Linked DNA regions of Homo sapiens. The protein of the gene in region 1 purifies or fractionates together with the protein of each later gene. This does not show direct contact. Each region holds a gene or a part of one and is shown in the gene's direction. Other genes may lie near its edges.

Region 1 (5,526 bases):
TGGGGTTTTCTAGATATAGGATAATGTCCTCTGCAAACAAAGACATTTTGACTTCCTCTCTTCTTCTTTGAATACCCTTTATTTCTTTCTCTTGCCTGATTGCCCTGGCCAGGACTTCCAATACTATGTTGAATAGTGGTGAGAGAGGTCATCCTTGTCTTGTGCTGGTTTTCAAGGGGAGTGCTTCCAGCTTTTGCCCATTCGGTATGATATTGGCTGTGAGTCTGTCATAAATGGCTCTTATTATTTTGAAGTATGTTCCTTCAATACCTAGTTTATTGAGAGTTTTTAACATGAAAGGATGTTGAATTTTATTGAAGGTGTTTTCTGCATCTATTGAGTTAATCATGTGGTCTTTGTCTTTAGTTCTGTTTGTGTGATGAATTAAGTTTATTGATTTGCATATGTTGAACCAGCCTCACATCCCGGGAATGAAGCCAACTTGATCGTGGTGGATAAGCTTTTTGATGTGCTGCTGGATTCAGTTTGCCAGTGTTTTATTGAGAATTTTTACATTGATGTTCATCAGGGATATTGGTCTGAAGTTTTCTTTTTTTGTTGTATCTCTGCCAGGTTTTGATATCAGGATGATGCTGGCCTTATAGAATGAGTTAGGGAGGAGTCTCTCCTTTTCATTTGTTTGGAATAGTTTCAGAAGAAGTGGTATCAGCTTCTTTTTGTATTTCTGGCAGAATTCAGCTGTAGATCCATCTGGTCCTGGGCTTTTTTTGGTTGGTAGCCTATTAATTACTGCCTCAATTTCAGAACTTGTTATTGGTCTATTCAGTGATTCAACTTCTTCCTGGTTCAGTCTTGGGAGGGTGTATGTGTCCAGGAATTTATCCATTTCTTCTAGATTTTCGAGTTTATTTGCACCGAGCTGTTATAGTATTGTCTGATGGTTGTTTATATTTCCATGGGATCAGTGGTAATATCCCCTTTATCATTTTTTATTGTGTCTATTTGGTTCTTCTCTCTTTTCTTCTTTATTAGTCTAGCTAATAGTCTATTTTGTTAATATTTTCAAAAAAAAGCAGCCCCTGGATTCATTTATTTTTTGAAGGGTTTTTCATGTCTCTAGCTCCTTCATTTCCACTCTGATTTTGGTTACTTTTTGTCTTCTGCTGGCTTTTGGGTTTGTTTGCTCTTGGTTCACTAGTTCTTTTAGTTGTGATACTAGGGTGTCGATTTGAGATCTTTCTAGCTTTTTGATGTGGGCATTTAGTGCTATAAATTTCCCTCTTAACACTGCTTTAGCTATGCCCCAGAGATTCTGGTACATTGTCTCTTTGTTTTCATTGGTTTCAAAGAACTTCTTGATTTCTCTCTTAATTTCATTATTTACCCAGGAGTCATTCAGGAGCAGGTTGTTCAATTTCCACGTAGTTTTGTGGTTTTGAGTGACTTTCTTACTCTTGAGTTCCAATTTGATTGCGCTGTGATCTGAGAGACTGTTTGTTATTACTTCAGTTCTTTAGCATTTGCTGAGGAGTGCTTTACTTCTAATTGTGTGATCAATTTTAGAGTAAGTACCATGTGGCACTGAGAAGAATATATATTCTGTTGTTTGGGGGTGGAAAGATGTCTAGATATTTATCAGGTCCCACTTGATCCAGAGCTGAGGTCAAGTCCTGAATAACTTTGTTAATTTTCTGTCTCGATGATCTAATATTGACAGTGGGGTGTTAAAGTCTCCCACTATTATTGTGTGGAAATCTAAGTCTCTTTTTGGGTCTCTAAGAACTTGTTTTATGAATCTGAGTGCTCCTATATTAGGTGCATATATATTTAGGATAGTTAGCTCTTCTTGTTGAATTGACCCCTTTACCAGTATGTAATGCCTTTGTCTTTTTTTTAATCTTTATTCGTTTAAAGTCTTTGTCAGAAACTAGGATTGCAGCCTCTCCTTTTTCTGTTTTCCTTTTGCTTGGTAGATTTTCCTTCATCCTTTTATTTTGAGTCTATGTGTGTCCTTGCATGTGAGATGGGTCTCTTGAATACAGCACACTGATAGAGTTTGACTCTATCCAGCTTGCCACTCTGCGTCTTTTATTTGGGGCATTTAGTGCATTTACATTTAAGGTTAATATTGTTATGTGTGAATTTTATCCTGACATCATGATGCTAGTTGATTATTTTGCAGACTTGTTTATGTTTTTGCTTCATAGTGTTACTGATCTGTGTATTTCAATGTGTTTTTTGTAGCGGCTGGTAACAGTTTTTCCTTTCCATATTGAGTGCTTCCTTCAGGAGCACTTGCAAGGCAGGCCTGGTGGTGACGAATTCCCTCAGCATTTGCTTGTCTGAAAAAGATTTTATTTCTCCTTCACTTATGAAGCTTAGTTCAGCCAGATATGAAATTCTAGGTTGGAAATTCTTTCCTTTAAGAATGTTGAAAATTGGCCCCCAACCTCTTCCAGCTTATAAGGTTTCTGCTGAGAGGTCTGCTGTTAGTCTGATGGGCTTCCCTTTATAAGTGACCTGGCCTATCTCTCTGACTGCCCTTAACATTTTTTCCTTCATTTCAGTCTTGGAGAATCTGATGATTATGTGTCTTGGGGTTGATCTCATGGAGTATTGTATTGGGGTTCTCTGGATTTCCTGAATTTGAATGTTGGCCTGTCTTGCTAGGTTGGGGAAGTTTTCCTGGATGATATCCAGAAGTGTGTTTTCCAACTTGGTTCCATTCTTCTGTCTCTTTCAGGTATATCTACCAGTCGTAGGTTCAGTCTTTTAACATAATCCCATAGTTCTCAGAGGTTTCATTCATTCCTTTTCATTCTTTTTTCTCTAATCTTGTCTGCCTGCCTTATTTCAGCAAGATAGTCTTCAAACTCTGATATCCTTTCTTCCACTTAGTCTATTTGGCTATGGATACTTGTGTTTCCATTATAAAGTTCTCATGTTTTTCAGCTCCATCAGATCATTTACGTTCCTCTCCAAACTGGTTATTCTGTTTAACAGCTCCTATAATGTTTTATTATGGTTCTTAGCTTCTTTGCAGTGAGTTAGAACATATTCCCTTAGCTTGGTGAAGTTCGTTATTTCCCATCTTGGATGGATGATTGACATTCATCCATCTCAGCCTCAGCCCAGTTCTGTGCCCTTGCTAGAGACATGTTGCAATCTTTTGGAGGAGAAGAGGCACTCTGGCTTTCTGAGTTTTCCGTATCCTTGCATTCTTTCTCATCTTCATGGGTTTATCTACCTTTGATCTTTGAGTCTGCTGACTTTTGGATGAGGTTTTTGTGGTGTCTTTTTTGTTGATGTTGTTGCATTCTGTTTTTCTTTAGTAGTCAGGCCCCTCTTCTGCAGAGCTGCTGCAGTTTGCCTGGGGTCCACTCTAGACCCTATTCGCCTGGGTCTCTCGTCTTCCAGGAGATATCACCAGTGGAGGCTGCAGACCAGCAAAGATGGCAGCCTGCTCCTTCCTCTGGGAGCTCTGTCCCAGAGGGGCACTGGCCTGATGCTAGCCGGAATGCTCCTGTATGAAGTGTCTGGAGACTCCTGTTGGGAGGTCTCAGTCAGAAGGAGCGGGGTCAGAGAACCACTTAAATAAGCAGTCTGTCTGCCCCTTGACAGGGTGGGTGTGCTACACTGGGGGGAATCCCCCTCATCTGGACTGCCTTGACTCTCCAGAGCCAGCAGGCAGAGAAGACTAAGATCACTGATCCATGATACTTCAGCCATCCTTCCTCCTAGGGGCTCCTCTTGGGGTTATCAGCGTTTTGTCCATAAACCCCTGGCTGGGGATGCTGAGATTCCCACAGGGAGGCCCTGTCCAGTGAAGAGGAGTGAATCTGGGTTCCACCCCATCTCGCCGGCGCTAGCAGCAAGGGAAAGTGGCCAATTGAAGCCGCAGTGATGGCGGCCTCCCCTCCCTTCTCCCCCCTCTCCTTCCCCACTTCCAGAACTCAGTCGTCTTAGGCAGTTTCTAGCTGGTGGGGGAGGATTCCAAGCCAGTGGGTTTTAGCTTATAGAGTTCTGTGAGAGCAAGGCTGCTTGGCTCCCTGGCTTCAGCCCCCTCCCCATGAGAGTGGACAGATCTCCTGCCTCACGGGAGTTCCCAGAGCCGGAGTATGCAAATACTCCAGTGTCTCAGTGCCTGCTCAAAGCGGCTGCCCACCCAAGCAGAGATTTGTGCTTGGGACCCAAAGCTCTGGTAGCATTGGCTCAGGAGGGAACCTCCTGATCTACAAGTTGCAAGGATCTGTGGGAAAAGCCTGGTTTTCAGGGAGGGGAAGCAAAATCCTTCACCATCTCCCTTGGCTGGACGAGGGAGTTCACTTTGCTGCGTGCAGTTCCTGGATGGGATCTTGCTCCACCCTGTTTGCTTGCTCTCCGTGGGTCATGCCAGCCACCTAGCAGTCCCAATAAGAGAACTTCAGTATCTCAACTGAAGATGCAGAGTTGACTCACAGTTTTCTTCCTTCTTGGTGGGAGCTGCAGAGCAGAGCTGCCTCTCTTTGACCATCTGGGCTCTCTGTTCTACTTTTTTTTTTTTTTTTTTTGCCTCTTGCATGTTGGTCACCTCCTAAATTAGTAATGTCCAAGTACTTATTCCTTATCAGATACTTTTCGTTAATTTAACTATCCTAGTACATACCTCACTGTGGGGAAAGGGGGAAAGATGAAAATTAAACTTACTTTTTATTTATTTGATTCTCTTTAAGTTTCAGGTAAGCTCAATTTTGACTAGGATATATATATGTGTGTGTGTGTATATATATGTATTTTTTAAACTATTTGTCAACTTTATTTTTTTTTGTTTGTTTTTGTTAAAATACATTCAGCGGCTGGGCTTAGTGGCTCACGCCTGTAATCTCAACACTTTGGGAGGCTGAGGCAGGTGGATCACTTGAGTCCAGGAGTTCAAGACCAGCCTGAGCAACATAGCAAAAACTCCATCTCTACAAAAACACCAAAATTAGCCGGGTGTGGTAGCACTCTCTTTTAACAGTCCCAGATACCTGGGAGGCTGAGGTGGGAAGATCACCTGAGCTCAGTCGGTTGAGGCTGCAGTGAGCTATGATCATGCCACTGCACTCTAGCCTGGGCAACACAGTGAGACCCTGTCTCAAAAAAAAAAATCACATTCAAGTATATTTCACATGCATTTTATATAATTCATGAATTTCAGGAAAGCTGCATGTAAATCTTTTTTTAAAGCTAAATCATGTTAAAGACACTGAAAAAGTTAACTAAAATTCTATGGTGACTTCTTTTATAAAATACTAATTTTTGGCCGGGCACGGTGGTGGCTCACGCCTGTAATCCCAGCACTTTGGGAGGCCGAGGCAGGTGGATCATGAGGTCAGGAATTCGAGACCAGCCTGACCAACATGGTGAAACCCCATCTCTACTAAAAATACAAAAATTAGCTGGGCGTGGTGGTGTGCACCTGTAATCCTAGCTACCTAGGAGGCTGAGGCAGGAGAATCGCTTGAACCCAGGAAGCAGAGGTTGCAGTGAGCCAAGATCACACCACCGCACTTCTGCCTGTGGAACAGAATGAGACTCCGTCTC
Region 2 (3,832 bases), on another chromosome or scaffold:
GTTACCTGCTTCCTATCTGATTATCAGAAGACTCGGTTTATTTGTTAAGCAATAATTTGGTAATAGGAGTTAAACCTATAAATAGTGGAAGGAGTCCTTAGCTGTGAGTCGTCTGTTCCATTCGTTGATTCTCATTCATTCAGCAAATACTTGAGCGCCTTCTACGTGCCAGGCACTGTTCTAGACACTCGGCATAAGTTGTTAAACAAAAGAGGCCAAGTTGATGCCTTTATGAAACTGTTTCTAGGCCAATGAGGCAGTCAATTAAAAGAGTTAATATCTATAGCTATCTCAATATAAAATGTTAATTAGAAACGCTGTGGAGAGTAACACCTTGGGATAGAGGGGATAGGGTGTGTCAGGAATGGGTGGGGTGGGAGCAGGGGAGGTCTTCATATAAGGTGTTAAGGGGAACCCTCTGGTGACAACACATGTGATCTGAGACCTGAAGTCTCAGATGAGGGAGGAAGCCATCATGGATCTGGTGCAAGAGTATTCTGGGCAGAGAAAGCAGCAAGCACAAAGGACCAAGGCAGCAGAATGCCAGGTGAGCAGGGGGCTTAGCAAACCAGAGAGTAGGAGATGGGTCGGATCATGTAGGGTCTCATTGGCCTTTGGAAGTACTTTAAAATACCCTGACTGAGATGGAGAGCCACTTGGCTGTATACCTGCCATTTACTGCCCCAGATTCACTTGGCCCTTTTCTAGCCTGCTCTGTAGATGTGCCCCAGGAGGGGGCCCTGCACTGACAGGTTGCCTTGCTTTATGGCTGCGGGCCATGGGAAGTATTGCTGGGGGTGACCGAGAAGGAGAAGAATGAGACCACTGTATTTCTTCCCTCCTGCAGGCTTGTGTGGGGTGGGGTTTCCTTAGACTTAAGGTCACATTTCCTGTCATGTGCCTTCTCTGCGGAGCTCTTTGTCTCCCTCCCTCTCCATCCTTCACACCTTCAGGTCTATGAGGAGTTCAGGTACCCCTGATTTACCAGCTCCAGATACTGCATTTTCTCTTGTGGTTTCCCTACACCTGCCCACATCTTTGTAAATAGTTCCTTTATAAACTCTCCTCAAATCACCCACTTTGTGCCATCTGTTTCCTGCCAGGACTTAGACTGATCCATGATCAGAGAGTTTTGAGCAGGGGAGTGACACAGTCTGACTAGCATTTTAACAGGCTCATTTAGGTTACTGTCAAGAGTAGATGGTGGGGAGTGAGGGTGGATACAGGGAAACCAGTTAGGAGGCTATTGCAGTATCCTGGGAGAGAGGTGACGGTGGCTTAGCTCACAGTGACGGTAGTGGAGGTAATGAGAAATGGTCAGCTCTGGATATTTTTATGAAGGTCTCTACCTTGCTAAGCTGTTTTGTTAATGCAGATGCAGGGAGGGCCTTTCATGACACTAGAGAACAAGACATGGTTGTATTGTTAGTGCCTGCCTTCCTTATTGTGCCATCTGGAATCATCCCATTGCAGACACTCTGATTCAGGCCAGTAGGTTAATACTGATAGTCTCAGAGGTAGCAGCCTTGCCAAAAACAGGTGTTTACAAAAGATACTACTGTTTTTCTTTGAGTTTGTCTTTGAACAGAGGCAAACGCGTCCTCCACTTTAAATGGCATGGTGTCATTGAACCATTGGCATGGTTCATTGTCAATGAAGTGACTTGAACTCTGAGGGGAATATAAGAGAATTATTAGTCTTGATCCCTGCCCTCAAAATTCTTTTATCTTAGAGAGATAAAAAAGAATATGCTGTAAGGCCGAGTGCGGTGGCTCACTCCTGTAATCCCAGCACTTTGGGAGGCTGAGGCTGGCGGATCACTGGAGGTCAGGAGTTTGAGACCAGCCTAGCCAACATGGTGAAACCTCATCTCTACTAAAAAAATACAAAAATTAGCTAGGCGTGGTGGTGTGCACCTGTAATACCAGCTACTCAGGACACTGAGGCAGGTGAATCTCTTTAACCTGGGAGGCGGAGGTTGCAGTGAGCCGAGATTGCACCATTGCACTCAAGCCTGGGTGACAGAGCAAGACTCCATCTCAAAAAAGAAAAAAATAAGAAGAATATGCTATAGGCAGTCACAGAGTGCTAAATTATAACTGCTTTGCACGAGGATTTTGGGGAGTTGAAAAGCCATCTGTGTGGGCTGAGGTGGTCAGGATGACTTCATGGAGAACGTGGAACTGGGTGGGCTGTAAAAAATAGAGTTTGGGGCAGCCATTCAAGGAGGGAGAGCTGTTTTGAGGGAAGACTCAGGCTTGACTGGGGGCGTTAAGATGGCTTACCAGGAACGGAGGGTGCAGGTTGGATGTGGTAGGAAATGAGGTGAGCTGGGCGGGTGGGCCCCTATCAGGGTATTAAGAGGCAGGTGATGTGCTGGCTTCAGGTTCGGGCAGTGGGCCACCACATATCCTAAGGAGGGACCAGCGGAACAGAATCCTGACCTGCTGTTGACTTATTTCAGCTTATAGGATCCAAAATATTAGTAAATGGAGGTGGAACAAATCACTAAATATGATAAAACTTCCCAACTTTTTATGCCTCTGATAGAAGGGACTGGAGCTCTGCTTGGTTAGGTGGTCAGTAGGCTAGCTTTCTGAATCCATTTTATTTTATTGAAATTCAGCATATACCATATTGCCCAAGTGTAAAGTAATCCTGCATATCAAAATTTCCCCATTAAAAAGTCCAAAAGGTTGTTTTTGGTCAAGTTGAAAATACATGTACTTTTAGGTATATAAGTGAAAAATACCTGCTTACAAAATTTACATTTAAATTTGGGTCCATATACCTACTTAAAATCACCTACTTTATAAAGTAACACTAATTTAGAAATGCTGGTTTTCCTCCTCTTCTTATTTATAAAATGTTTCTTTTCAGACTCTTCACATGCATCTTTGACTTCACTATTTTTATCATCACTGGAGCCACTTTTTGAGTCAGCCAATGTGGATTTCCGGACCACATGTTCAGTTCTTGAGATACATCGTTTTTGAATATGAATAAGGTGTTACCACTGAACAGTTTATTCCAAGTTACAAGTATCCACTTGCATAACATTAGACTTTTTTTTTAAGAAAGGGTCTCACTTTGTCGCCCAGGCTGGAGTGCGGTGATGCAATCACCACTCACTGTAGCCTTGACCTCACAGGCCTGCCTTGGCCTACCAAAGTGTTGGGATTACAGACGTGAGCCTAGAATTTTTTTTTTGCAGTGTTTCCAGTTGGTATATATTTGTGGTCACTGCAACTTAACCACTTTATTACTTTTTCAAATGATTTCTATTTTTTTTTAAAGACAGGGTCTCACTCTGTTTCCCAGGCTGGAGTGCAGTGGCATGATCATGGCTCACTGTAGCAACTTTCCAGGCTCAAGTGATCCTTCCACCTCAGCCTCTTGACTAGCTGGAACTACTGGCGTGCGCTACCATGTTCGGCTACTTTTTATATTTTTTTGTAGAGACAGGGTTTCCCTGTGTTGCCCAGGCTGGTCCCGAACTCGAGCTATCCGCCCACCTTGGACTCCCAAAGTACAGGCATGAGCCACCGCGCCCAGCTAAAATGATCTTTAAAACGTTGGTCTACTGGCCAGGCATGGTGACTGATGCCTGTAATCCTGGCACTTTGGAAGGCCAAGTGGGTGGATAGCTTGAGCCCACAAATTCGAGACAGCCTGGGCAACAGGGTGAGACTCCATCTCTAAAAAAAGTAAAAAATGAATAAACAAAATAAAAAGCTGGCCTTACAATGGCAGTTTACACATGGAAGTGTGAGTTTATATCTCCAGGGATAATTACTAAATTTGTGTTTAATTTATCTTGTTTCACTGATTA

The links.
Region 2: the proteins of INTU (region 1) and FNTB purify together in Homo sapiens (affinity purification with mass spectrometry, with the first as the bait; one large-scale study listed by BioGRID). This does not show direct contact.

The regions. Positions count from the first base shown.
Region 1 is NC_000004.12:127,718,894-127,724,419, forward strand, and holds part of INTU (protein inturned), read left to right. Parts: 3' UTR 1-5,526. UniProt on the Homo sapiens protein: Plays a key role in ciliogenesis and embryonic development.
Region 2 is NC_000014.9:64,989,563-64,993,394, forward strand, and holds part of FNTB (protein farnesyltransferase subunit beta), read left to right. Parts: intron 1-3,832. UniProt on the Homo sapiens protein: Essential subunit of the farnesyltransferase complex. Catalyzes the transfer of a farnesyl moiety from farnesyl diphosphate to a cysteine at the fourth position from the C-terminus of several proteins having the C-terminal sequence Cys-aliphatic-aliphatic-X.